Regions from separate parts of the Homo sapiens genome. Here all the other regions are linked to region 4. Evidence: fine-mapped expression QTL. A gene starts in region 4. Each other region holds a variant in brackets. All regions are shown on one strand. Distances are from middle to middle.

Evidence for each region. PIP is the estimated chance that this variant, and not a neighbour inherited with it, causes the effect. A credible set is the group of variants that fine-mapping cannot tell apart.
Region 1: its variant is the best candidate, but not a certain one, in a credible set for the expression of CHST15 in whole blood (INTERVAL, PIP 0.71).
Region 2: its variant is the best candidate, but not a certain one, in a credible set for the expression of CHST15 in whole blood (TOPMed, PIP 0.65).
Region 3: its variant is the best candidate, but not a certain one, in a credible set for the expression of CHST15 in unexposed skin (GTEx, PIP 0.86).
Region 5: its variant is the best candidate, but not a certain one, in a credible set for the expression of CHST15 in liver (GTEx, PIP 0.90).
Region 6: its variant is the best candidate, but not a certain one, in a credible set for the expression of CHST15 in whole blood (INTERVAL, PIP 0.64).
Region 7: its variant is the best candidate, but not a certain one, in a credible set for the expression of CHST15 in whole blood (TOPMed, PIP 0.78).

The regions. Positions count from the first base shown.
Region 1 is chr10:124,006,639-124,010,702 of GRCh38, forward strand. It overlaps CHST15 (carbohydrate sulfotransferase 15), which reads right to left. Exons shown (of 8, transcript NM_001270764.2): 8 at 1,030-3,701. The coding sequence ends at 3,511. Among named protein-coding and RNA genes, the nearest start is that of CHST15, 85 kb to the right of the region's middle. The variant A/G (reference allele first, on the strand shown) is at 2,066.
Region 2 is chr10:123,969,018-123,973,081 of GRCh38, forward strand. No RefSeq gene overlaps it. Among named protein-coding and RNA genes, the nearest start is that of CPXM2, 79 kb to the left of the region's middle. The variant G/A (reference allele first, on the strand shown) is at 1,690.
Region 3 is chr10:124,065,873-124,069,936 of GRCh38, forward strand. All of the region lies in intron 1 of CHST15 (carbohydrate sulfotransferase 15), which reads right to left. Among named protein-coding and RNA genes, the nearest start is that of CHST15, 26 kb to the right of the region's middle. The variant T/C (reference allele first, on the strand shown) is at 2,059.
Region 4 is chr10:124,091,182-124,095,245 of GRCh38, forward strand. It overlaps CHST15 (carbohydrate sulfotransferase 15), which reads right to left and starts at 2,417. Exons shown (of 8, transcript NM_001270764.2): 1 at 2,288-2,417.
Region 5 is chr10:124,047,057-124,051,120 of GRCh38, forward strand. All of the region lies in intron 1 of CHST15 (carbohydrate sulfotransferase 15), which reads right to left. Among named protein-coding and RNA genes, the nearest start is that of CHST15, 45 kb to the right of the region's middle. RefSeq lists enhancers at 1,404-1,904, 1,905-2,405, 3,447-3,947. The variant T/A (reference allele first, on the strand shown) is at 1,746.
Region 6 is chr10:124,041,671-124,045,734 of GRCh38, forward strand. It overlaps CHST15 (carbohydrate sulfotransferase 15), which reads right to left. Exons shown (of 8, transcript NM_001270764.2): 2 at 3,997-4,064; 3 at 2,910-3,249; 4 at 631-777. Among named protein-coding and RNA genes, the nearest start is that of CHST15, 50 kb to the right of the region's middle. RefSeq lists an enhancer at 1,565-1,804. The variant T/C (reference allele first, on the strand shown) is at 2,117.
Region 7 is chr10:124,001,097-124,005,160 of GRCh38, forward strand. No RefSeq gene overlaps it. Among named protein-coding and RNA genes, the nearest start is that of CHST15, 90 kb to the right of the region's middle. RefSeq lists enhancers at 2,677-3,244, 3,245-3,810. The variant G/T (reference allele first, on the strand shown) is at 2,179.

The DNA of each region.
Region 1 (4,064 bases), 85 kb before region 4:
CCAGCCGTCCTGCTCCTGACTCCCACCCGTCCTCCATTCCCTGCTGGGTAAAGCCATTCCTGACCCTCGCAGGAAAAGATGGGGTCTTCCCTATTTCCAGCCTGGACACACCTGCCCCCTACCTCAACACACCACTGTGGGAGGTGGTGCTGGGGAGAAGGCTCCCCCAGGAAGGTCTGCCCAGAACTGGGGGACCCACCATGGTCCACGCTGTGCTCAGGATGGCCCAGCTTTCAGAGCCCTAAGCCTGAGATGTCCCCTCTGTATGGGCTGAAAAGTGTGCCCCAAATTCGTATGTTGAAGTCCCAATCTCGAGTACCTCAGAATGTCACTGCATTTGCAGATAAAGTTGTTTAAAGAGATGATGAGGTTAAGATGAGGCTGTCAGAGCACGCCTTCATCCACTCCGACTGGTGTCCTTATAAGGAGAGGAAGAGGCAGCAGGGGTGTGTGTGTGTGGCCACATGAACACACAGAGAGAATCAGCCATCAGCAAGCCAAGGACAGAGACCCCCAGAGAAACCAGCCCTGCAGCACCTTGATCTCGGGTCTCTGGCCTCCAGACTGAGAAAATCAGTTTCCGTTGTTTGTGGTCTTTTGTCCTGGCTGCCCCACCTGAGTGCACACCACACCTCCTTCTGCGGGCTTGCCCTCAGCAATAAGGACATGTGCCAGAGACACCAGGGGTCTCAAACTCACAGCTGCCAGGGGCCAGGCAGGCCACCGGAATGAGGCCTGTGGTCACTTAACCTTCAAATTTGAAGGTCTGAAGACAACGCTAGGCCTGACTGTGGCTGGGCCAGACCTCCCACCCTGACTCACACCCCAACAGGACTCGCACAGGGAGTCCCTGCTAACATCTGAATCCTTTTCTCTCTGGTCTTGAGTTTTCTTCTGCCTGTTGCTCGCACAATCACACCTCGTCTCTCAGCAGCCAGCACAGCTGTAACTCCTCTTTACACAGAGCCTGCACAACTCGAGCAGGTGCGACACTAAACCACTGCGATTCACTCATGCACCAGGAAGAGCTTGGCTGCAGAGGAAGAGCACGCGCTCCACAGGCGTCACTCTTATGGGTCCATCTTTAATTATGTTAAATATTAATAAAAGTACAGCGTAACTGCGATTCACTTAACATACCTTACAGGACTAAGGGAGTACAATTTAACACGGTCACAACTTTTGAGAACAAAAAGGAACTTCAATACCATGTTGTGAGAAATGCTCCAATTTGCTTTGGTTTTGAATGGCAGGCTCGAGAACCACCGCCCAGAACGGAACCTATTCTGTCAGCAAGAGCCGGGCCTCGAATGAGAGGAAGCAGAGGCAGCCGAAGTGCCCTCTGGAGAGAAAGGCCCCTGGAGGGAAAAACCATGTCTGGATGGCATTGAGTGGCACAGAAGGGATGGGACTGCATATATAAAAAAGATCCGCATAATAAACCAAATAATATTGGAAATAATACCTTCAGTAATACTTCTGTAAGAAGCAGAATTACACCACATGTTATTCACATGCATAGGAGTGCATAAGAAAAATCCCTTGTTGTAATTATGGTTGGTGTGGAATAGTAAAATATGTACTGAAAATGACAAGTTAATTGGCAGAGAAATTAATCTATAAAAGGGTTGTGTCCAGAGCGGAGGAGCCTCATTAGCAACTGAACAGAACCCACTCAGAAGACGCACTCACCCACACGTGCGCGTACACACACACACACGCGCGCACTGTACTGCAAATAAATATACACACACACTGAAGTGATCTCTCCCTAAAGCATCCTTGTGCTCAGGCCAGATTTCCCTGCTGGCGGCTGCTCCCAGTGCCGGCTATAGAGAAGGTGGGGACTGTCCCTGCAAGTGGGAGTTCAGGACACACGCTCCTTCAGTAGCAAAAACAGCCCTGGCCATCCTGGCGCTCAGAGCCCTCTGCACACCTTCGAACGGGCTGTGTGTCCCTTCTCTGATGGCAGAAAGACAACACCAGCAGAAAGACGGCTGAACAACTGCAGATCCTCCTACCCCCGAAGCCTGGTCTGTCTCACACATACAAGTTAGAGCTGGGT[A/G]GACGGGTGCTTGCACTTTCTGGCTTTGGTGGGCGAGACCTTGGCCTGAGAACTTTGGTTCACAGGAAGCTTCCCTTGACAATACTTGAGTGCAAAGCTTCATCCAGGTCCCACCTGGGCTGTTGCCAAGGATGCTCAAGCGTTCTCTTCAATCTTCCCTGTGACTTCCAAGAAACGACAAGATCTCTAGCCCATCCATCGGTAAACCAAGCTGCCAAGTGGCCTGGAAAATTCCATGAAGAACACGGCTCTTAGAAACCTCATTCCAAATCTCAACACGCCACGTTCAGCCCAAGTTCAGCTTGTGCATTGTGTTTTGGAATTGGGACACGAGTATCTATAGTCCCTTGCTGGGTGAGGAACTTTGACCACACGCAGTGGAGAATGTGGAAATAAACTATTTCCAATGGGAAGGCAGAGAAATGGAGCCTGTAGCCGGCCAGAACTAAAAATTAAAATCCTCTGTTTCTCTGATGATCTTGTAAACCTGATGAGGGCTTGAATTACCTAGATTTTCCAAGAAGTGTTCAATTCCTTGAGGTTGCTCATTCTGGCATTAACAGCAAAAATTTCTCTTCCAATTATAAACTGAAGTTCTTGAGAAAACGTATGAAGAGGCAGCAGAGAGAGAGCCAGGACTGGTTAAATGCAGAAAGTGGTTTTGTTTTAAACGCATTCATTTTCTATGTTAAACATAAGTCCACAAGGACAGAATAGGAGGAGGTCAGAAAGATGAAGGTGCTGCCAAAAACTGACTTATTTTTTTCCTTTTGGAAACAGTGACGTTAACAGGGTTTACATCTGAAGAAACTGGAGGGCTGAGTTTGGAGTAAAGGAGAAAAAAAAAATGAAGAGCCTCCATTCTCGAAAGACTGCGGTTCTCTGTCCCAGTGAGGTTAGCGATCGCAACAAGAGTGTTTCAGAAGTGAATGTGGTATGATCACACCTGTGAAGATAGCCATTGAATACAGACAGTCTGTGCAACACGGCGAGACCCCATCTCTAGGGGGAAAAAAAGGGAACGTGAAGTGTAAGTTCCAGCCAGGCCTGTGGCATGACCTCTGGCTTGCTGACTCAGAACCCAGAGGCTCTCCAGAAGGCGGAGGCGGGCAGGGCCAGGCTGCCTTCCCTAGGTGTTCTCTCCACACCCAGTGCAGGCCAGCTGGCTGCATCCCCAAGCTCCAGGACGCTCAGAGCAGAGCTGAATTCTTGAGAAACTGGGGTCTCCAATGGCCTCGGATAGAGGAGCTCTGTGAGGGGTCCATTGCTGAGCTCTCGAACATCACGAAGGAAATTCCAAAATGGTTATAATTCATGTGTGCCTAGAGTGGCAGAGTCCTGGGGTTTTCCATACCATGAGTGAAACAGTTCCCCGCAAAGAGATTTGTAAAATCCTGATGATGACGGCATTGGCGGGCCCAGCACGTGCAGCAACAATTCAGCTCTCACGTCGTCTTCCACGCAAACGCCTCATCCGCGAGGACCTGCGCCAGCCTAGCGTTGAAGGGCCTGTAGAAATCCCGCAGAATCTTCTGTGTGATGGGCCACATGGGCCCCAGGTTCCGGTCCTCGGGACGCCGTGCATTGGATGCGGGGCTCTTGGTCATCAAAGCCTCCTGCTTCTCACTTAAGGGCCCTAGAATAAAAGAAGACGAGTCCCGTAAGGCAGGAGGCATGGCAGGAAGTAAAAGGGACTTTGCAAAAATCCCAGCTATGCTTCGTATTCAGACAGGAGTTTCCTTTAAGAGAACATATTTAGGGATTAAAATTCTTTGGCTGGATCCATTTTGGAAGCACTGAGGGAGGAAGGTGGAAACACCATCAGGAAATTGCGAAGAAATTCTGCGGCGGGTGCAGGATGCCCACCCTCGGGGGAGCCCAGCTGGCATTTAATGATGATACAGCGTCTAAGGCTGACCTCAAGGATTCCCTTCCAATTGCCCTTGGTGGGCTGCTCTCCATGGGTGTCAGCCCGTCCTTGGAGGAACGTGCGGCCTGC
Region 2 (4,064 bases), 120 kb before region 4:
TTTCACCTTTGCTGTTGCTGCCAGCCTTGTCCATGCACCACCGTCTTTAATCCGGATGATTCCAGAACTTCATGGTCCACACGGAGCCACTAGCCACATGTCGCTATGTAAATTGCACTAATTTAATTAAAATAAAGTGAATTTTAAAGCCGAACTTCTCAGCCACACCTAGCCAGATTCCAAGTGCTCAAGGGCCACACGTAGGCCCGTGGCCGCTGCAGGTGCAGTGCCAATGCAGGACACTTCCATTGCAGGACAGCCCTGCTCCAGGATCTCTCAGGGACAAAAGGGACGATGACCCCTGCCTGCATGTGTGTCTCCTCCCCCAGGCCCAGCCCATCTTCCCCAGGGCAAGCAGGGCCTTCTTCCTGAGCACGACTCAGCTGACATCGCACCTGTGCTTAAACTCTCTTATTGCCTATCCCGGTTAACAGAACAAAACGCCAGTTCCTTCCGTGGCCAGCCAGGCGCCACATCTTCACATTCAGCCAACCATCAGCAAATATCTATTGGACATAAACTATGTGCCAGGCAATTGTGATGGAAGATGCCAAACAGCAAAGAGTCAAAACTCCTCGCCTCCATGGAGCTGTCTAGGGGTAGGGGGGCGGGGGGAGCGATAAACAAACGGTAAGTAAATGATGGTTTTCTAGAAGATGAAATTGCTATATATATATATATTTAAAAAAGAGCAGATTGAAGGCACCTGGAATGCCAGGGGAGGGTGACCAGATGGCCTCGTTGACAAGGTGACAGGTGAGCCTTCCAGGTGGGGGATCAGCCAGCGGGGAGGCTCCAAGGTGTGGGCAGGCCTGGGTATTTGAGAAACCCAGGGGATCCAAGGGGCTGGGAAGGAGGAAATGAGGGAAAGGGTAGGTCCTTGGGGTCATGGGAAGGACGTGGGCTTTCATCTGAGCCAATGGGGAGTTATGGCAGGGTTTGAGCTGAGCAACAGTTCCCAGCTCATATTCAAAAGGCTCCTTCCAGCTGCCGGCATACGATGGGTGTTAAGAGGGGGGCGCAGAGAGCCCCGAGTCACCTGCAGGGAGGAGGAGGGTGAAGTGGATTTGGGTGGCAGTGGTGAGGAGTTCAGAGATGTTCAGAGGATCCCAGGTGGGTGGGATGTGAGTGGGGGTAGCAGCCCAGGATGGCTCTGGGTTCCTTGGCTCCTGAGAGATGGGACGGACAGGTGTGCAATGCTGGTGAAGACACGAGTGGGAGGCGTTCACTGGACACTAAAACAGAGGGGCAAACGGAGAGCAGGAGGCATTCACTGGACACCCAAGAGGAGCGATAAAGGGGAGCGGGAGGAGTTCACTAGACGCCCAAGCAGAGAGGCAAAAGGGCTGGGTCTGAGTCCACAGTGCTGGAGAGAGGTTGCTTTAGAGGCGGGAGCTAAGTGCTATGAAGCTGGCCCGCTGCTCTCTCCTTTCCTCTCTCCACTCTCTCCGTCTGGCCACTTGCACCTCCCTTTGCACCCACGACATCTCAGCTCATTTCAGTGCCCTAGCCTCTATCCTAGCAGTCCCCTGGCCAGCTCCACTGCGCGGTTCCGCCCTCTGCTTCCCACCGCACTCCGCAGCCCTGAATGATCGCTACTCACCCGGCTTAAACTGTGAGCCCAAGGATACTTGAGGACAGTTGTGTGAGGACACTTGTGGAGGACAGACACTCCAGCTCCTTGCTTGG[G/A]CTGTATTCCCAGCGCTAGACAGGCCTAGCCCCAGAAGACTCAGCGTCTGCACTGCCCCCACCTTGCTCCGCTCCCTGCCCCACCTTGCCCGCCCCCTGCCCTACCTTGCCCTGCCCCCTGCCCTACGTTGCCCCGCCCCCTGCAGCCACCTGCTGCTTTTCTGGGAGGCCCAGGAACCCAGATGGTCGCTGATGAAGAGGAGCATCTCTCCCGCACCAGTGGACCCAGCCCTGGGTTCTCAGCCTATAAGATACCACCACGCCCATACACAAACACGTACAAACATACACACTCCCACACACAAACACACACACGCAATCACACACAAAAACACCCCACACCCACACACAGTCACACACACACCCCACACATAAACATCCACACATTCACACACACAATCACATACACACACCCCACACCCACACACAAACACATACACACAAACATCCCCCCCACACACTGACATACATACAAACGCCACACAAACACACAATCACAAACACCTTCACACACAATCACACACACACAAACACCCCCACAGTCACACACACAATTGCAAACATACACATCCCACACTCACACACAAACACAATCACAAATACCTCACACACAGTCACTCACAAACATGACCCCCACACACAGTCACACACACAAACACCCTACACACACACAACCCCCCACACACAGACACACACACACCCTCCACACACAAAAACAATTTCACACAATCACACATAAACACCCACCCCCAACACACACAAACACCAACACATGCCCACACACACAAATATTCCCCATACACATGCACACCCCCCACACACAAACACACAATTACAAGAACACACACAAACACTTCCACACTGACACACAAACACAATCGCAAACATATACACACTTCACACTCACATGCAATCACAAACACCACACACGCACACACACACAAACACTCCCCCACACACAATCAAAAACATACACCCCACAACCACATAAACGCACACAACACATAAACACACACACACAAAAAACACTCCACACACACCCACACATACAAACACCCCACAAACACCCAAACACAATCACACACACAAACACCCCCAACACACCCACATACAAACACAATCACAAATACCCACACACGAACACACCCAATATACATTCTCACACTCACAAGGTTTAACTTCTTTTCTTCCCCTCCTCCCCCTTCCCCATTCCTGGTCTGAGAGTTTTATTTGAAAAGACAGGAAAAGCCTGAAAAACCAGCTCGCCTCAAAAGTACATATTTTTTAAAATTGAATACAGTATATTAATTATTGATTATGCATTTGATTTATGAATGAGAAATGACTTTGAAACTTCTTTTTTCAGCAGTGGAGCCATTCAAAAGGGATACGAGCGAACGTACTTGTATCCTGACTCCTGAGTCGATCCCACTTAACTCAAGTTGTCAACGGTGATGCAGAAGGGGAGCTGTGGAAACCCACAGAAATGTGGCGGCGGGGCGGGGCAGAGAACGAGGAGGGGAGGGGAGAGGAGGGGAGGGGAGGGAAAGGGAGGGGAGGAGTAGGGAGGGGAAGAGATGGGAGAGGCGGGGATGGAGGGGTGGAGAAGGGAGGGGATGGAGGGGCGGGGCGGGACGGAGAACGAGCGGGGGAGGGGACGGGACGGAGAGGTGGGGAGGGGCGGGGAGGAGATGGAAGGGAGGGGCGGGGATGGAGGGGTGGAGAGGGGTGGGGATGGAGGGGTGGGATGGGAGGGGAGAGGATGTAGGGGAGGGGAGGAGGTGAAAGGGAGGGGCAGGGATGGAGGGGTGGAGAGGGGAGGGGATGGAGGGACGGGGTGGGAGGGGAGAGGATGCAGGGGAGGGGAGGAGGTGGGAGGGAGGGATGCGGCAGCGATGGGGAGAAGGGAGGAGCAGGGAGAGGAGAGAGGTGGAGGAGCGAAGAGGGGATGAAGGTGAGCGGCAGGGCGGGGATGGAGGGACGGAGGGACGGAGAGGGCGGAACGATTTCCCGCCGCTCTGAACGCCCCGCCTGGCCGTGCTGCTCGCCGTGCTGGGAGCGCCCCTGGAGGAGGCTCCCGGGCGGGTGGGCGTCCGCTGCCAGAGCCGAGGCCGCTTCTCTCCCGGGCGGGCACGTTGCGGGCTGTTCCTCGCTGTCTCTGCTGGAATGGGTGGGCAGGTCTTTGTGCGCTACTTTTAAGTGCTATAATGAGCGCCCTCTGATTCCCAGTCCTGGAAGGGGCAGTAGCTCCGGGGAGCGGATGGGGTGTCGTTCGCTCCGATCCCACGTCTGGACGCACCAAAGCCATAGCAATGATCATAGGGACCCTCGGCCGCCAGGCCGGGGCGGGTGATGGGGACTCTCCGCTCTTCGTT
Region 3 (4,064 bases), 25 kb before region 4:
ACATGCCGCAAAATCCCAGGTACTGAGCTCAGGACAAAAAAGAAGGGGGAAAAAAATCCCTCCTCCCTTTTGGATCATTTGCATTCCTTTCCCGTAAAGGAAACTTGGAAACGTTTCAAAAGCATCGAGTATTCGGAATCAACTAAAAACCCGAATTCTTCTGTCTTTTTGTCTTTTTTTTCTTATTTGGTCCCCTCAGTCACTTTTTCCCCTCTTCTACCCTTCAGAAAAGGCAAAATACCAGTTACCTATCTAATAAAATGAGTGCCTCCATTTAATCAATTTGAGAGATTCACTGGGTTTTATGGGAGGACTAGATTTGGGGGTTTAAAACATTATTCCTCAAGTTACAGAGTGTTGGGCTAGGAGAGCTTTGAGCGTCGACCAGCTAGGGGAAGGGGGAGGAGGCTGAAATGGAAAGAAAGAGACGGATGTTTCTCAAACTTCTTTAGCTAACACACTGCGAGTCTGGGACTCGAACCCAGGGCTGTCTCTCTCCACCACCGCCAAGACGTGTTCTGTCACTGCTTCTGCATCTATTTCTGGGACTGACCCACACCTCCTCTTATGTAACTGGCTGGGGGAAAGAAAAAAAAAAACGAGTTTACACGGTCACAAAGCAATTTGCAATTATCTTCTTTCTAAATATTCATAAGCTGGGATTATTTTCCCCTTTGGATGACAACACAGTCGATGACATCGCTGGAAAGTCTTTGGTTGACTTAGTTTTTCTGAGGTTTTCACACCCAAAACCTTGAGCAAAAATGAAGGATGATGAACAAATCCCAAAGGTGCTTTTCCTTAGAAATGGCCAAAAGCGTTCACCTTACAATTTAAGCAAGAGGTGGAGACCTTTCATCTTAGGATGGGGGCACCCCACCTGGGCTGCCATGCACCTCCCTCCTGGGGAGGTGGGCTCCAGCCCAGCCACAGCTCATTTCCTGGGCTGCGTCTCCCTGTTCCCCTGAGCAACCAAGCCCAACCCAGCCACAGCTTTCTGAGATGAAGCCAGCACTTTTGGTGACAGCACATGCCTTGGGCTTAGCCTCCTCCTTTTGTCCCATTCTTCCTATCCCCACTAGGACCTGAGCCACCCGCAAGGCGCTCTGCAGCTGGGGCAGAGGGGCCATTTGCACATTCCAGAGTAACTGGCTGCACTTAGCACTGTGCCGGGCATGCAGCCCCATCTGAGTGACAAGACAGTCGCACCCCAGACTCCACATCCTGCACTTAGTGCTGGGAACACCAGGACTTCTGCAAGTGGCAGACTTCCAAACTCCCTTAAAAATCTCTTTGGGGATCACAAAGAAGAGATTAGGAACATTTTTCAGAGCATGAAGCCCAGATATTTATCGTCCATGGATATTTTCTGGCCAGTGATCACATTCACATCATTCGTGGAAATCTCTGGCATCTACTGCACTTATTCAGACCAATTTGCTCAGTAATCAGTGCAGGTGCACTTCTGTCCTGCTTCCTAAGATATGCAATCCAGTTGGGCATGGAAGCCGCTAGAACAGAAGCTCAGATCCAAACTGAGGCACTTGAGAGATCACACTGTCGGAACCTCTCATCTCCCAGATAAGGACCAGGAGCAGGCCATCTGCCCCAAACCAAGGCTGACTTTCAAGCCTGATAAACAGGGAAGTTGGAGACTTCTTCTGCATGTTGGGCAATTAAGCTTATAAGTGGAAGTCTGCGCCCTCAACTACTTTCAGAAACAGATTTAGAAACAGATGGTTTTTGTGTTTTTGGTTTTTTTGAGACGGAGTGTTGCTCTGTCACCCAGCCTGGAGTGTAGTGGCATGATCTCAGCTCACTGCAACCTCCGCCTCCTGGGTTCAAGCGATTCTCCTGCCTCAGCCTCCCAAATAGCTGGGATTACAGGCGACCACCACCATGCCCCGCTAATTTTTGTATTTTTAGTAGAGACGGGGTTTCACCATGTTGGCCAGGCTGGTCTCGAACACCTGATCTCGTGATCCGCTGGCCTCGGCCTCCCAGAGTGCTGGGATTACAGGCGGGAGCCACTGCGCCTGGCCTAGAAACAGAAGTGAG[T/C]ATCATTTCCCCCAAGGAGAGTTGGGTTTTCAAGTTTCATTAAAGGTTGTGTCTGCGGGTGCAAAGTGAAAATGATACATTGAGGCAATTATCCAGATACGTAATGTCAAACTACCAGAAACTTTGCCTTAATTAGTGAAATAACTGAAGCAAAAAATGAGTATATGCCTAATTCCCGGAATAGCTGGCTCGAGCTCTCACCTGCTCGGGGGGTCAGAGGCAGAGCCAAGGGGATGGTGAAGTCAGTCCCCACGCTGCAGTGGTTTACATGCTGACCACTCGGGAGCAGAGTGGCAGTTACCAGGACATGGGTTATCTAGACAGCTGGAGTTCTCATCCTGGCTCCACGGCCTGACACTTAGCCCACCTCAGTTCCTTATCTGAAAAATGGGGATGATGTGACAATATGTAGTCTAATGGAGCCACAGGGAAGACTGAGATAATCCATGGGAAGCACCAAGCAAGGACAGGGCACCTGGGAAGTTCAGGAATCGTTGGCAGTGCTCCTCATCATGGTAACCATCACTGTCACTGTTATTCCTGTTTCCACCTGCTCTTTGGCTTTTTAGCTGATGGGCCGGGTACATGTCCAGTCTGGTCTGTGTCACACACTTCCACATTTTATTCCAGCGTCTCCTAGAGGGCTGGCTTGCTGAAATGCATCCGAAATGAATTACTTTGCTGTCTGTTGCAATAACTAGTCCTTCATATTCAAATCCAGAAAAAGATCAAAACACATATATTTTAATGTCTTCTAAGTCCGTTGTGAAAAGCATCACTATGCTCTTATTAAAAATTCTGCTTTCATCACCTGCCTTAATATCCCTGTTCTTGAATTAAAAAAAGAAGTCAGAAAGACAGAGGAAAATAGTGATTTTTAAAGTAAGACCTTATCTTGTGAATAACTGTAAAATGTTCTATTTTAATAAGAAACACAAATTTTCAAACAATAAAAAGGGGATCATTTTTACTTTAGAATGTTCCACCTTATGGTATTTTGGGCCCTAAGTATACAAAGAAAGCATACAAGGAGATAATCGAAGCTAGAAAGTATCAGAACATGCTTTAGCATGTCTCTGTCTGGGCTAAGCTGGGGTCAGATGTGAATCAGACAGGACTAGGCAGGATGAGAATGGCCTCTCAGGTGAAAAGGACAGTCCCTTGTCTCTGCACAGACATCCATCGGCTTAGCATCCCTCCCCAGAGGCCTCTCCCAAGGAGGCAGGTCTGTGCTGCTAGGCAAAGTTGCAAACTCCCACAGATCAACATCCCGTTTGAGTTCCTACATCCTGTAGTCCTCCTGAATATAGAGAGGATGGGTTCAACTGACTTCTGCAGGCTCAGCTCTAGTACAAATCAGTGCCATACAGATAATAAATATAGCCAGGAAATTCAAGAGTCTTGCAAAGTTCAAGTTAGTCCCTGTTGTTTGGGGGACCCCCCCCCCAACTATTGGTGATATGGCACAGATGGAAATGGGGCAGAGGCACCATGAACAGAGTAACATTGCAAGAATCATCGGGGCCAGGCTCGGGGAATTTGGGACGGGGAGTCCAGGGTCTCTGGCAAGTCTCTGAGTCATCAAGATGAGTGAGCCTCAAAGGCAACACAGGGGAGAACCATGAACAAGCAGTGACACGTGCAGGGCCCGTGGCCTGGGGAAGGCTGAACAGGGATGGACAGTTTACGGTTTCACAGTTTTAAAAATTTGAGTCACTGACTTTAAACAGGTGAGGCAGAGCAGGGGACCCAGAAAACAGGAACAGTGCTCCTCCATGAGCCCCTGCCATAGGACACCTGGGCAGAGGCCAGCCTGAGCCTGGACCTTCCCAGTCAGCCAGCTCATCCCTCGAGGAAGGACGCAGATTTTTCTCTCATTGCCTGCCTTTAACAGTTCTGCGCTCCAGGCCTGACCAAACCAGATTTATCCATTAGGTTCCATGACATGTGGAATATACTGAGGGCAAAGAAGTCACCCCAAGATGGGAGTTCCCCTGAATCTAAGG
Region 4 (4,064 bases):
ATTTTTATTCCTATACTACTTTGAATAAAATCATATATGATCTATGTATGTCTTTATGTATCAATCAAGAGATCCTAGTTCAACATTCAGTTTGTAAAATTAGTAAGTGCCATGTTCTGGAAGGGAGGGTTCCTGATTTTGCAAGGTTGCCGGTCCTGGGAGGAGAAGCAGGAAAGCGGGGGATGGATAATGGTCCAGGAAGGTCCAAGGAGGGTCCAGGAGAAACGCTGGGCAAATCTCTAGGCCTCAGTTTACTTCAGGGCCCCTCGGGGGTGCAGATGCCCTCCGAGGCCTTTCTGCCCCAACGCTGGGTGGCTACCCTAACCCACCGAGGCATCCCACAACACTCAGGAATTGCAGCTGATAAAGAGGGGCTGGGGGCACTGCTAGGGCGCCCAGAGGCAAGGTTAGCCCCTTTGCTCAGCCTCACTGACCGGCTTGTCACATCCCTCTGCGGGGCATCCCGGAGCCACACTTCATTCCCGAGAACTCGGTACAATTAACTTAACCAACGTGAACAAGGCGAAGGCGCCCAGCTGTCACAGCGGCTCCGCGCACGCAGGCAGACGAAGAAGGGCCCCCGCCCCCAGGAGCTGGTCCCAGCCTCCAGCCTGGCAGCCTCCTTCGAAGACTTCCCTACACTGGGCGCGGACCTCCAGCCGCCAGCAGCCGGCAACCCAGCCCCAGCCTTCCTCCTCTATACCCGCCGTCCCAGCCGCGCCGGCCGGCCCCGGGCGCAGGGCGGGCGGGAACGTGGGCACCCGGACAGCGACGGGGAGGTCAAGCAGCTGTGCCCAGGACCCGGGCGGCTCCGAAGCCTCAACACGCACACACTCGCGCGCACGCCGGCCCATCGGTTGCCTGGAGGAGTCGGGAAGGTGCTTCCACGGCTCTTCATTCATTTTCCCAAAGGCAAGGTTCCCTTCGCCCCGGCGCCTCTATCCTGCCATCCCAGGGGGCCAATTGCGCCACAGCCCGCCACCCAGCCACCCACAGCCACCGCGTCCTATCTCCCGGCACACACAACCCAACAGACTCGCATTACATCTCCACCGCCAGCGTCGCCTCCGCGCCCCGGCCGCTGCCATCCGGCTCCCCAGCTTCGCCGCCCCGCAGCCCCGGCTCCCCGCCTCTGGCCTCACCGCGCGGCTCAGAGCTGCCTCGCTCGGCTCGCCGCACCAAGGCCGGCCAGAGACGCCGCCACCGCCGGGAAGCGCCGGCAACTCCCGAGTCACGCCGCCTCCCGAGACGCGGCGGGGCGCAGGGAGGGGACAGCAGTGGGGGCGGGGCGGGGAGGAGGAAGGAGGAGGGGGCGGGGAGCAAAAGTTCACACCGCTCGGGGCTCAGCCGCTCCCCTATCTCTTCCCAGGCCCGCCCCCGCCATCCCCCTTCCCTGAACCGGGTCCCACGGGCTTAGGCGCGGGAGAGCTCTGGCCTCCCCGCCCGGAACCGCCGCAAGGCTAGAGCCAGGGTTCTGGAAGCGCATCCGAGCTCGCAACCGGGGAGAGAGTGGCGGATGCCCACTTACCTGCCCCGGGCCGCGCCTGGAAACTTCCCCAAAGTGCGATAGGGGTGTGGGGGCGGAGCGCAAGGCTGGGGGGAATCCCCGTCCCCTACCGCCAAACGACGCGCGCTCACACCGTGAAAGCACTGGTCTGTCCGTCGGTCGGTCCCCCGCCTGCGGCTCCCAGAGCTGGGCGGTGCAGGGGCGCCCCGATTCCGACTACTGGGCTCCTTCTCCCGGACAGCCCGCCGGTGCGTTCCACGCGGCTTGCGCCCCCCGCCGGCCTCCGGCTATCCACGGCGCCACCACGCCACTGCTCGGTCCCCTGTCCCCTCGCTCCGGCCGCGTCCTCTCTGCGAGGGAGGGGGCGTGTGTCGCCGCTGGGTAACCCTTCCCGCGGGGTCCTCAAGCGCGCAGGGCGCCCGGAGCGCGGCCAGGACCAATGGCGAAGGGACTCCTCCCGCTGGGGATCGCTGAAGCCTCGGGGAGGCCGGGCCAAGGAGCCCGGGGCCCAAACCTGCCTCGGCTCGTCGAGCTCGCAAGTTCATTGTCTGCCTGGGCCGCCGCCGCCACCGCCACCGCCACCACCGCGCCGGGAGCGCCGCGGGGAGTGAGGCTGCGCGCCGCCTCCGCCGGCCCGGACTCCCTACGCCCAGCCCCGGCCGCCGCCGGCGCTGCCTGGCCCGAACCCGCGGAGGGGCGCCGGAGCCCCGAGCCCAGGGCCAGACCTCCTACCGCCGCTCCTCGCCGACCCCACCTCGGCGTCTGGCACCTAACTTGTACCTGAGAAGCCTGAGTCCAGCCCGGGAGCCTCTGCGGCTCCGGCTCCGCGGGAGCGCGCCCAGCCCCGAGCCTCTAGCCCCGCATCCAGGGCGCGTCAACCTGACTCCCCGAGCGCTGGGAGGAAAAGTTTGGGAGTGACGTGCAGACGGCGAATGAAACATCCGAGGAGAACCCTCCCCCCGCCCCATGTCGCGCTGACACACATCAGCTCCAGTCTGGAATGTGAGATCAAGGCGTGTGCGCCGAGCGGTGGGTTTGGCCCCTGCCCCCTCCCCCTCCGAGTCAACACTGCTTGTGTGTTGCGGTGATTCCAAATAAAAGCACATCGAAACCCCTGAAATCTGGCAGTGACACCTTGCCAGATACTTCTTTTTTTTAAAGACAGAGTTTCGCTCTTGTTGCCCAGGCTGGAATGCAATGGCGCGATCTCGGCTCACTGCAACTTCCGCCTCCCGGGTTCAAGAGAGTCTCCTGCCTCAGCCTCCCGGGTTCAAGAGAGTCTCCTGCCTCAGCCTCCCGAGTAGCCGGGATTACAGGCATGCGCCACCACGCAAAATAGGCTAATTTTATATTTTTAGTACAGACGGGGTTTCTCCATGTTGGTCAGGCTGGTCTCGAACTCCCGACCTCAGATGATCCGTCCGCCCCCCCAACCCAAAGTGCTGGGATTACAGGCGTAAGCCACCGCGCCCGGCCGCCAGAGACATCTTTAAGGAACTTGGCGGTCTGGAGCCAGCCCGTACATTAATATTCAAGGCCACAGCGCTGGTGAGTTCGGCGCCCTCTGTTGTATTTTTGCATCCCGGGAAGGCTGGCCCGGCTCTTTGGCCCGGCGTGTTTTGCTTCCGCGGGGGAGGTAAAGCTCTGCAGGACCCCGATCGCCACGGCCTGCCGCAGTGGCCTGGAGTCGGCTGCCCCAGGGAACCACCTGGACAGCCCGAGGGCAAGAAAGCGGCACCAGTGGCCGACTCCACTGACTCTGGGCTGAAGATGCCATCAGTTAAAGAAAAGACACATGAAATTCTGGCAGATTCGCTCAGAGGGCGCTTGGAGCACCAAGCCCAGCCTCTCAGGAAACTGAGGTCCAAGGGACAAAAAGAATCTGCAGTCTCTTGCCGGCCTGTGTCCCCGTGGCCAGAGTCCAGCACCCTCTTCCTCGAAGCAACCAGAAGTGGAAATGAAAGTGCTCCGTTAACTGTAGACTACATGCCACCGAAGGGTCATTCCTGACAGTGGCTTCTCCCCATTATCTCTTTATTGCCGGAGGCTTCATCTCGCCCCCCTGAAGCTACAGTCCACCCTGAGGTCATAAACTTCTGCTCAGCACCCATGGCAACTAATGCAGAGGTCACCATCAGAGGATTATAACTGCAGATGGGAAACCGGGATGAGAGGGGAGTTCTTTAAAATCCTGTCTTGTTTTCCTGCAAATAATGCCTCTTACATAAAATCTGCGAAGAAAGATGAATGCAGCAAAGAGACTTGCCTTAGAATCTCAGACTAGATTGCTTTTTCCATATAGACTCCACTTAGTGATTTTTGTTCTTTATTTTTTTTTTAAACAAAAACCTATTTCTGAAAATACAACGAGCTGCTTTTTGCAGGGTTCACAATTCCCAATAGATGATGATGCCATTTTTCAAGGTCTCACACACGTTGTGGCTTTGGGGCTTATTTATTAGCTCCCAAGAAAAGCCTGCCTTTCAGTGAGGTTTATATACTCGAGTAATTGCATCAGGGGACACAGAGCAGGTTGCTGTTAAAGAGGGTTGGTTGT
Region 5 (4,064 bases), 44 kb before region 4:
GGATGTTGTGATCATTCTCAGAGTCATGCACAGTCAATGACTACAAATTTGAGGGATGGATTGAAATATCAGTGCTTTTCAGTCAATGAAAAATCTCAAGAATACTAAGGAGGATGGTTAGAAAGGGAGCAGGCAGAGAAAATGTGTTTTTTCCCTCTCACTGGCATCAGCAGTCTCTTTCTTAGAGTTAACCTTTATTATCAGATTAGGAAGCAAAAGTTAATGAAAATTTAGAAACAATGAAATGAGTCTCTCCTTCAGTAGAATGTATCATATTAAAAAACTACTTGACTTTAAGTTATTAAGCAATTAAATCCAATGTATAGGATTCCCTCGAGTGACACAGAGCTTCAGAACCTGACATAATTTTTCACTTTCATCATCTCGAGCAAGATATGATTCTTAAAAACCCATTAATAGAATCCTGTGGTTATAAAATATATTGTTGCCCAAATGACACTTCTTTGTAGATGTCGTAGAAAGAGCCATGGATAAGCATAAAAGGAGACCTACTCAGTTTCTAGCAGTGGTAGATCACCACTAATTGGCTGTGTGACCCTGAGCAAGCCACATAACCTCTCTGAGCTTTGGTTTCCTCAATAGTAAAATTAGGATAATAAGGACACCTTAACAGGTGCTAAATTAGCTACTACATGTAAACAGTTTGAATAATGCCTGCCACATATTTAGCATACCATAAAAGGTAGACAGCATTGATAATAATAGCATCATCAACTATTATGATGATGATTTTTCATTGTCAGTGAATGCCAAAAACATTTGAAATGGAATCAAAGATGAGAGATCCTATACCACATGATTATTCTTTAGCAATTGAAAATTACCCAAGAGTGGTAGACTCATCTCCAACTCTACCCACGCCACCCCTCAAACAACCCTCACTGTCTCCATAGAGGCAGCATTAACTAACCGCGCATCAAGATCGCCATGTACTGGCTGAAGGATTAAACAATCAGAACTCAACAGAAGAAATGTTCATGCCCCTTGGACTGAAAACTTCATGTTTTCTCAAAATATGGTGGCCAAGAAACAGCCAAGCTGTGTTTCCCAAAATGTCTTCCTCCCACAAAATGTTCTGCTTGCCGTTGGTGAGTGTTCTGTGCTTAAATTATTTGGAGAAAATGTGGAATGGACAAAATTACACAGAATTCTTTACAGCTGAACTTTTCAGGGCCTTTGATATGCTAATAAGCCCTGTGAATCCACAAGAGAGGAATATAATACACAAAGTTGGAAGTACCTAATTGGCCAAGGAATCTCACTAGGGTATCAAGGAGCCAGTTTGAGAAAGGCTGGTCAGTAGAGGCTGAGACCTGAGTCCTGCAGAGGCGCTGGGGCGGGGATGCAGAAGGGGCCAGTTCTGGGAAGCCAGGCCAGACATCTCAGGCCCTACCCCCATCTCTTATCCCTGAGGGCAGCTGGAGGGACATGTCAGAAACCTCAAGGATCAACCTCTGCTTCAAACTTGCTCAACCACCCCTGACCCATCGCTTGCTACAAACAATTCTTCCAAACTAAAGAAACAAAAGGGCAAGATCCCCTACTTGGAAACTCCATCATTAAAGCCAAGAAAACATTTTTTCACATGTCCAAGACAGGGCCAAGCCGGGGTTAAAAATGAGACTCCAACCAGCAGCTCAGCGGGGAGGGAATTCGCACCCTCCTGTCTTTCTGCTGCAGAAAATCGAATTAGATTCTTTAAAAAGCAAACAAAACACGGACTT[T/A]GAAGCTCCAAGATAGGAATGTACATAATCTGGACCCAAACGAATGGGCAAAACATTCCTAAACAAGGGCAGGGGCAGCTCATTTCAAGCAAAGTAAAAACATGAGCAGCCGACAGTCTCAACAGAGAGGAGGGAAGATGGGGTGCCCGGACCGGGTCCACAGAGCATGTCTGCGGGGCAGCTGCCCCCACCAACCAGCCCGGCCTCTGCGAGTCCCGCTTCCTAAACAGAAAGACCTGAGGAGGCAATTCGAGATGCTGCAAGAGCCTTAGCAAAACACTCAGATACAGTGTTTTCTCAGCTCCTAGCATTCTTTCATTCATTCATTCATTTGTTCAACAAATACCTTTTGAAGAACAGCTGAGTGTTGCGCATGTCCAGGTAGGGGGAGACCAAAAGCCAATACAAGATGAGGGATGTGATGTGGAAATAAGAGATGAGTATTTGGTCTCTATCCTCGGGTACTGGTACACAGGTGCTAAAATCCTTGGAATTTTTCTGAATGATGGGGTGAGAGAAGCACCTTTCGTCATTCATGACAAGCCCCTTTCAGCCATACCTGAGTGTATCCTGATGCGGTGACACTTTGCGGGCCAGGATAGCTCCAGGATGGAGGCTGGTCACCAGAAAGACCAAGCCTCAGTGAGCAGCTTTCAACAAACCCCCCAAACTCCGGGTAGGGAATAAGGGCTGCAGATTAAGTCAATCACCAGTGGCTGATGATTTAACCAATCAGGCCTTTGTAATGGAACCGCCATCAAAACCCTTAAACCACAGGGCTCAGGCAGCTTCCAGGTTGGTGGATCCTTCGAGGTGCTGGGAGGGTGGAGTGGAGGAAGAGGGCATGGAAGCTCCACACACCCTCCTCCACCATACCTCGCCCCATGCGTCTCATCTGCTGGCTGTTTCTGCATTCTATGCTATAATAGACTGATGATGAGTCAAGCACTCTCCTGAGTTCTGTGAGTCATTCTAGTGAATTACTGAACCTGAGGAGGTTGTGGGACACTCTTGCCTTTTTAGCCAATTTGGACAGATGTGCGGGTAACCTGGGGACCCAATACTTGGGACTGGCATCTGAAGTGGGGCAGTCTGGTGAGACCGAGCCCTCAAACCGGTAGAGTCTGAGGCTGCCTCTGGTAGGGGCAGACTTGAATTGAATGGTAAGATAATCAGTTAGGTTCTGGAGTTGGAGGATTTGCTGGTGTTGGAAAATACCCCTGGGCTGCGGTGGGCGTGGGGGTGGGGGCCTCTCTGAGAAAAAAACATAAAACTGTCTTACATTTACAAGTTTTTACCAAAATCGATAGCCACTGTATAGTATGTCAAATACTCAGTAAGATGGACAAGCAATCTGAAGACCAGGTGAGTCCCTTGTAAGTGAAGGCCCTAGAGCCCGGCGGCTTCCAGACAAGACCTCCCCTGACGGGCGCGAGTGGTGCAGGGCTGACCCAGAGAGGAGGCCTGTTCCCAAGTGGAGCTTCTGTCCCACCAGGGGTAGGGGCTGCAGGGCACAAGCTATAAAGAAGTCCCAAATGAATAAGATAATCACAGATGCTGCTAGATAAAGGCTATGCAGAAAAGAATAAAGAAAAGGGGGAGAGAGCAATACAACCATTGGAACAGGGTTTTGGAATTCTTTGTGCCGTCCTAGGGCTGGCCCATGCTTTGTTGTCAGGGCTGTCCCGCGCACAGTAGGATGCTTAGCAGCACCCTGGCCCCCACCCACTGGATGCCATAGCACCCCTTCCCCTGACATGTCACAACCAAAAATGTCTCCAGGCATTGTCAGTGCCCCCTGGGGTGCATAATCACCCCTGGGTTGGAGCTACTGCCTTAAAGAAGTGGGAGGTATGATACACAGGGTGACAGGGAAGACCTGATTTCAGAGGGGACGTTGGAGGAGAAACCTGAACAAGAAGGAAGCCAGTCACGTGGAGACCAGGGGAAGCAAAGGCCCCGTAGAGAGACGCTGTGGGGAGTCCCAGCCCATGAGGGCTACTGGCAGGGTAGGCCCTGGGGCACAGGCTGGTGGGGGTGGAAACCTGATGGGAGAGGAGGCAGGGACCAGGCTCTGTAGAGTCTTGAAGGCCAAAGTCAGGGGTGGGATTTGCTCGAGTGCAAGAAGGAAGGCATACTACATATTCTTTTTTTTGTTTTGAGATGGAATCTCACTCTGTGGCCCAGGCTGGAGTGTAGCAGCACGATCTTGGCTCACTGCAACCTCCGCCTCCTGGGTTCAAGCGATTCTCCTGTCTCAGCCTCCCGAGTACTGAGATTACAGGCATGCATCACTGCGCCCGGCTAATTTTTGCATTT
Region 6 (4,064 bases), 50 kb before region 4:
ACAATAAAAAATAAATTTTAAAGAGTAAATATGTATGTTTACTTATAAAATATTCTTGTGAATATTTAAAACAAATTATTATTAATCAACCTCACTTTGAATGCCCAAAGGCATGAGGTTGACAGGGGCTAGGCTTTTTAAACAGCAATTAGTTATAGGCGATGTGTCAGAGCTGAGTCTATTTCAGGAGAAGCTGCCTCCGTCTTATATGGTCCCAGTGGCCAGGGATTACAAAAGCCCCAAGCAGCAAATCGATGACTAACCAGTTAACTGCACTTATAATTCCCCCATCCAAACTTATCAGATCAGTACATCAGGAAAAGAAGTCAATATCCCTGCTTAATTTCTTAAAAACAAAGAAATGGCAACTTCTCAAGAAAGCCATCAGCTGTCCTTAAGTCTCCAAAGAATTAGAAAGTCAACATTTCCACTTTATAGTAATGTTCAAGTGATGTGAACATTTTATGTAGTGGTAAGAGTGACAGCCAGGTGGAGAAGTGGAGGCTCAAAAGAAGTTTGCTGCCACCATGTAAATGTTCTGGAGGTGAAGCAGAGCTGGGCTAGGCCTGGAGCCAGAGCCAGGACCCCAGGGAGGGTGCTAGCCCTGCCAGAGTGACACAGACGCCTTACCGATAATGATTGTATTCATCTTGCTCTGCTCCTTTGCAGAGCTGGCCTGCAGTCCTTGATGGATCTGGTGTGCGGCCAGGTCAAAGAGGTCCAGATAATCTTCCACGGGATAGCGGTCTCGCAGCCCATCTCTTAGGCGGACGATTCCTATGAGAACCAAGAAGCAGGAGATACTGAGGACAAAGTTGCTACTGCTGGAGCGATGGCCTCCCAGACAGCAACCAAAGAGAGATGGAAAGGCCTAAAGGGCCTGGCGACAGCAGCAAGAGGCTCAGCCCAGGTAAGCTTCAGAAAGGGCTGCTGGGGATGGGGGTGGGGGTCTATGCGGCCTGGCTACCCACTTCAATCCATGCATGCTTCAAGGGCTGGAAGATACCACCACTAAGCTAGACAGTGGCAGATTAAAGGCTGGAACACCTACTCAAGAGCTAGAAACATGTCTGCTTGGAGGGACAAAGTCTGGGGCTGGTTAACTTGTGCACAGGTGGGACTCGTAAGTGGCTGGGCAGCGATGACACCCAGGATGCATGTGTTGTGTCAAACAGGGAGAGAGGACCGAGGGCTGCCCACAGGAGAGAGAAGGGCAGTATCCTATAAACTCCATGATGCCTTCCTCATGGGGCCCAGCCAGCACCTGCCTGATGTTCTCTCTCCTCCCCCTGTTCAATCAAATACCCTGCCCTTTGTCCAAACAGTAAGGGGAACTGATCATACTCTAGACAGACATGGATTCTGGCATCGGCCACATACAGCTTAAATTCACCCCCTGCCTGAAAAATAAATAAATTTCACTTGCAAACATTTAAAAATCCACTTCCCAACACCACAACTCCTGAAGTCAATGGAAATTGGAAAGAGAACATCCGTGGCCAAAGTAACAAGAGGTTCAAGGTGACATTGAAGACTAGATTCCAGAGGCCCGCCTCTGTTCTTCCTCCTTTCCTGCCGGTAGAAAGCTGGTTTTCATTAAGGGGAAATCACTGTGAGCCTCGGGGGAGCACCCTACAGCAAGGGAGTGTGTTCAGACACGTCCAGCAAATGCATAGGGATGTGAAACCCTGGCTCCTACAGTGGCGGCTGCTAAACCACAAAAGAAACATTTACACTTTAGCTCACTGTAGGACGAACATCAAAAGGATGAAAGCAAACGTTTGTCAGGAAACACATTAAGAGTTGGTCTAGGGAAAACTTTGAAGATTCCCTTCTAGTCAACCTGAGTCCATTACTGGAAAACACCCTCGTGGCCTGCCAGGACTCTGGTTGACAATAGGCACGTATCACCCCTCAGCTCCAGTGACCAAACCTCTCCTGGCACAAGGAAAAGGTTACAGAGAGGAAACAGTGATCTGAGGACCGCAGGGTGCATGGGGTTAAGCTGGAGCAGAGAGGGATGGGCAGTGGTCATGGTAAGCCTGCGGCAAAGGGCTGAGAGCAAGGCCTCCAGAATGATCTCCATGTGGTTATCATATGGAACCCATAAGGCAGA[T/C]GGGGCAGGTCAGAGAAGCTGAGGCCTGAAGCAACTCAGTCTCCCCCAGGTGCAGTGACTGCAGCTGGAACAGCACATAGCTGAGAACAGCACAGAGCAGAGGAACAGCACAGAGCAGGGGAACAGCACAGAGCAGGGGAACAGCACAGAGCAGGGGAACAGCACAGAGCAGGGAGCAGCACAGAGCAGGGAGCAGCACAGAGCAGAGGAACAGCACAGAGCAGGGAGCAGCACAGAGCAGGGAGCAGCACAGAGCCAAGGAACAGCACAGAGCAGGGGAACAACACAGAGCAGGGAGCGGCACAGAGCAGGGAACGGCACAGAGCAGAGGAACGGCACAGAGCAGAGGACCGGCACAGAGCAGGAAACGGCACAGAGCTTGGGAGCGGCACAGAGCTTGGGAGCGGCACAGAGCTGGGAGCGGCACAGAGCAGGGAATAGCACAGAGCTGGGAGCCAAGAGCCCGGATCACGCCCTTCTTGCTGGCCCTTACTGGCCACTGGCACTTACTGCTGACTGCTCGGGTCATGTGCCCGGGCTTTCGGAACAAGAAGAGCTGCCAGTTCTGACTCGTCCCCGTGTCCTGCACACAGCTGGCAATCAATGCTCACTGCATGGCTGGGAACCGAGTTCCAGACCCTGCTGGGTCTTTGCCTGGGAACAGCCTCCTAACAAGGGAATTGTGCCATCTCTTTCTGCCGCCCTCGCCCCCCAACCCCAGCGCTAACGTTGCGGGAGGAATGAACGAATGAAGGAACGAGACCAGACAGGAGCCCTGGGACCCAGCACTCACCAAAGCGCTTCCGGGTCCACCAGTGTGGCTCCTTGATGGCGGAGAACTTGACCTCAGGGTGCAGCCGCAGGCGGTCATAGAGGTCTGTGGTCCCGCACTTGGGCTGCCCTATGATGTAGAAGTGCGGCAGGCAGCGCAGGCGGAAGTGCTTCCCGTGCGCGTGCGCCAGGTGGCCCCAGAAGGCCTTGCGCAGGGCGTCGAAGGTGGAGCGGAAGCGCTTGGAGTAGAGCACGTAGGAGTTGGTGAGGTAGGGGTCGGTGGTGTTCTGCCCCGAGAACTCCTCGTACCAACAGGGGCTCTTACTGTTTGGAAGGAATTTGTTGGGGATGACTGAAAACATCTGCAAGGAAACAGAGGAGGAGAGACACAGAGGAGGGGAAAATGAGCAAAGACACAATCTAACCGCAATGGGAACCTGCCCTGAGACTGACGACCGTGTTCAAATTTGAACTAATATTTGACAATGATTAACAAATAAAGCAAAACTTGGTAGACGGTCAATGACTGTGCTTTCCTCTCCCCCGCCGCCCCACAAAAAAAAAAAAAAAAAAAAAAAAAAAAAAAACTTGGAGAGAATAAAGATAAAAGTTTAATTAAAATCCATTCTACCATAATTTACCTTTCTGACACTTACACAACACACACGCACACACGGTAATTAAGCAGAATCTTTTTACTAGTTGTATATTTAAATTGCCGTTAGAGATTAAAATGTAGAATAGAAGCAGAAAATCAAATTTAACGCAACTTTAAAATCCCAAATGATGGTGATCTGCAAAAGCAACTGTTAACTACCACGACCACATATCAAGCAAGAAGTCCTGGAATGCAATAATGAGAGCCAGCGGCCCTTGAACATGCCTAGCCCAGCGTTCAGGACAGCAGATTCCCTTCCTGGCACTCCATAGCGTAAGCAAACAGCACTCTCTCAGTGCATTCAAATCCATAAGGCTGTCAAATGATCCTTGCTACATCTAAGACATTTTTTAGTCATTTTCCTTCTGTGTTCCCAAAGATGGTGATAGAAAGAAAAGCACTCATTTCTAAAAATCAACCAATCAGTCAAGATTAGCACAAAGCTACTCACATGCAACTCCTGCTTCTTAAGGTCTTCTAAGTCTGGGAGCTGTCTGGTCGTGAACTCAATCCTAGTTG
Region 7 (4,064 bases), 90 kb before region 4:
GGGAGATGGTCGGGGTGGGCTGGGATTGGCCGTTTTGCACACAAAAGGTGTGCTCCAAGTGCCTCTATATCTAGGGGTTAGCTAGTCCCGAGAGGGCAGTCCTTCCCAGGCCAGCAAGATGTCAAAGGATCATAAAATACAGAAAATAGTCAACCAAACTAATACAAGAGTGGTCAAGATGAGGGGGCAGAGCCGGGAGAATGGTGGATCCTATGAGGCAGGATCCACCATTGGTCTCCTTACTATGACCAAGTGAGATCACCTTACTATGGTCCCTTCCCTGGCCCTGGCCAGACCAGCACCTTTGCCTCACTATGGTCCCTTCACTGGCCCTGGCCAGACCAGCACCTTTGCCTCACTATGGTCCCTTCCCTGACCCTGGCCGGGCCGGTGCCTTTGCCTCACTATGGTCCCTTCCCTGATCACTTACACAAAATAATAAGACAGGACGGTGAGAGAGTGGCTTGGGAAGGGGCGGGGTGGCTGTTTGGTCAGGGTGGTCAGGTTGACTGGGAAGTGGCTGTCAGCCTGAAGGAGGAAGCTGGGGGCAGAGCCTTCCCGCAGAAGAGATGGCAGGAGCAGGACGGCCGGCAAGATGGGTTCCAGGGTGGGTGTGGGCGAGCAGCGCCCGGGTAGAGCTCAGTGACATGGCCTGCATGGGCTGGTCACTGCGACTGAAGATGGAACCCTGCTGGGGAGGCGGCTTAGGTGGAGAGACAGACCCAAGAGCTCTGAGTCATTAATGCTGGGGGCGCCACCTGTCACGCAGTGGGTGCACCAGCCTGCGCTCAGGGCTGAGGTCTAGGAGTCATCGGCATAGAGATGGCGTCTGAGGCCACGGACTGGATAAGAACAGTTATGGGAGAGGGCTAAGGACTGAGCCGCTGGGCACCCCGACATTCATGGCCAGAAAGAAGAGCAGGTGCAGCCATGGAGGCAGGATGAGGACCAGCGAGGAGTCCGTTGTTCTGGAGACCAAGTGAGAGTTTCAGGAGGAGCTGCCAACAAAGTCAACAGGGCCAGGAGATTGGATTAGGAATGGCATCTCCAGACGAGCATCTGCAGAGGGTCTGACAGGGTGCACTCAACTTGACCCTCAATGAAGCAGCATGTTACCCACTCCCAAAAGAACCCCTTGCTTCTCGTAAGCAGAGCTGTATTACCAAAAAATTGTACTCAACTATTGTATTTTGAATTCCATCTCTAAATATTTGTGGAACCTCTTTTCTCTGTGTTACATTAGTACCTAATATCCCTGTTTTTCCTCTTGGGCCCACAAAGTCTAATATTATTTACCATCTGGCCCTTTATGGAAACACTTCAGTCATCTTGAGCCAGAGCATGAAAGTGGAGGAGGCATTTTGAGAATGGATGAGGGGCCATGGGACACATAGGACCCAATGCAAGGTACAGTGGCTTCCTGAGGATCAGGGCATGGCAGCCTTGGGGGTGACCTCGTAGGTAGAGGCGCTGGTAGGCCTGAAACATTCTGGGAGTGGTCTTCGTGTGGCCTGGGGAAAGCTGGGGGTTCAGTTCCAGCCCAGCCTCCTCTTGGGGCTTGGTCTCTGAGGCAGATGGGGAGGTCATAGAGTGGAGTAGCTGGGGAGGAATGAGGGTATCTCACCAGAAATATGTCACTGTCCCCAGTATCGCCCCTCATGCCTGTTGCAGTTCTGAAATGCTTCAGGCAATGCTGTGATCAATGTCTTGTCTGTTTCTGATCAAAATCTGTCTGCTGCACTGCATGCAGGCAGGGACCAGCTCTGCTCTCCCAGGTGCCTCTAATACCAAGGACATGGCTGGCGATCCCTCAATATTTGTTGGAAGAACCAGTGAAGGAATCAATGAATGAGCAAATGAACAATGTCCCACCCTCACCACAATGCCTGGCCCAATGACTCGTGCATAGTAGATGTTCAGAAAATATTTGCTGAGAAAATTAAATTTTGGCTTTTTTACACTTTCTAGCTCAGGTGTATACGTTTGGTGCCTTTGAGGCCCTGGGCAAGGCCGAGCCCTGGGGTGGAGCAATGTGCTTCTGATGTGACTCAGGGCTCAGGGGACTCCTCACCGCAGCTAGCCCATCACAGCTAGCCCCTGAAGTCTGCCTTCAGGGAGGCGCAGACAACTCACGCCAGCCAGCCCAGGGCAGGGGCAATATCCGTGCCAGCAAGTCTC[G/T]GCTGAGAGAGCCTTTTGGCAGAAAAAGCCATGTTTATTTCCCTTGTTTCCCCCTAGAAATCCCAGTCATCACCTAGACCCCTGATGGGTTGAGCTGCAGAAAACCCTGGCCCAGGTGACCCCAAAAACCACTGGCCTTCCCTGAGGGAACTTGAAAGGGGGGCATTTGAAATGGAGGGGAAGGAGAACTAACCCTTGAAATGTAGACAGGCTACTGAGGATGGAAGCCTGGGGCTGGTGCTGAGGGTATATAATGCAGCACTATGGTTAAAAGCACTGACTCGGAATGTCTGAGCTGCATTCTGCTCTCTTTCTGGGGATCTGAGCTGTGTGACCTCAGGCACGCATGCAGCCTCTCTGATCCTCAGTCTATATTTGTAAACTCTGAGACCCACTCATGAGCAAGACAGACCTGTGGGTGCAGAAAGGGCCTGTGGTGTACCCAAGGTTAAGAGATGGCTCTCCCAGGCTCTCTGCTGCGGAACTGGGCTTTGAATCCAGCTCACCTGGCTCCACTCAGGGCTCACCCTCTTCCCACACTGTCCTTGTCGGTGGCAGAGTTTGGTAGATGTAAATCATAGTCCCTTATGGTGGGAAAACAGTCGAAGGGGGATGGCTCATGACCTGGGGGAGATGGGCCAGGGTGCAGGGAGAGGCAGCTGGGATTTCCCCACCCTGATTCCCTGGCCCCCACCTTTCTCTGCCGTACCAGGAAGAGAATTCCTCAGGGGGCGTTGGGCCTCCGACCCTGGGCAAGTCACAAGGCTCAGGGAGGCCGAGGTTTCAGCCTCAGCTGAGACTTGCCCGCTTCTAGATCTGACCAGGACCTGACTTTAAAGGGGCCTTTCAAAGCATGCAGAGCTGAGGGTACACCCCAGAAAGCCCCCAGGATCCCCACTGGCCCTCAGGCCTGCCAAGGACCCTGCATGAACCCGGCCTCCTCATGCTGCTGGCAGCTCTCCACTGTGGGAGAGGAGGCCTTTCACAGTCTCTGTGTCCCAGACACAGTGCCCAGCACCTATAGGGCAGTCAGCAGAGGCTGCCCAGGAGGGAGTAGACCAAGTCTCCTCCTTGCTTTGCCACAGGTTCAACAAGGAAGAACCCAGGTGCAAGCCTGAGCTGGGTCCTGGGTGCCCCATGGTAGGAGGACGCAGCCACTTGCAGGTGGCAATTTAGAGAGCCCTGTTGCTCCTCCCCAGAGTCTCTCGCAGGCCTGCTGCATTGCCTGAGAATCCCCACCTTCTGCCTTCGTACTCAGCCCTTACAGTCCAAGGTCAGCAACCTGTGCAGCCTGAGGCTCCCAGGATGGCCCACAGTGCTCAGCCTCCTGCCCTGGACCCGAGTAGGAGCAGGTTTGTAGAGGATACTGGGGATGAGCCAGGGGGCTGGGGACAGGGTTGGTGAGGACAGAGATGGTGGGGGTGAGTCCAGCCTGTAGCCATCAGTGAGACCAGACACCAGCCTTCCAAAGCCCAAAGCCACGAGGCTGGGGGCCACGGAGGTCACCAACCCCTGAATAGGGACTGGAAAATGTTCTATTTCTCCAACTTTCATAAGCTGCTGCCTTTGAAGTCAACAACAGCTGAACTTCAAAGCAACTCAAAACTACCTAGGTGGCTGATGTGTGTAGTTTACACACATCCTGGAAAACTCACAAAGTAACTTCACAAGAATTTTTTAAAAAGTAAAAAGGTAAATAACTAGTAAGCACTCAAAAATTACTTCTACCAAGAGCTGGAGAAATTGTCCTGTCTCCATTGTGGGGGACAAGGCTGACTCTTGGAAACCAGGTGACCTTCCACGGGAAAAACACTGTGATGTGAATTGAGGAGGAGGTGGGTCTGTGGCCTGACCCCTCGTGTCACCCTGTCCCACCTACTCCACTA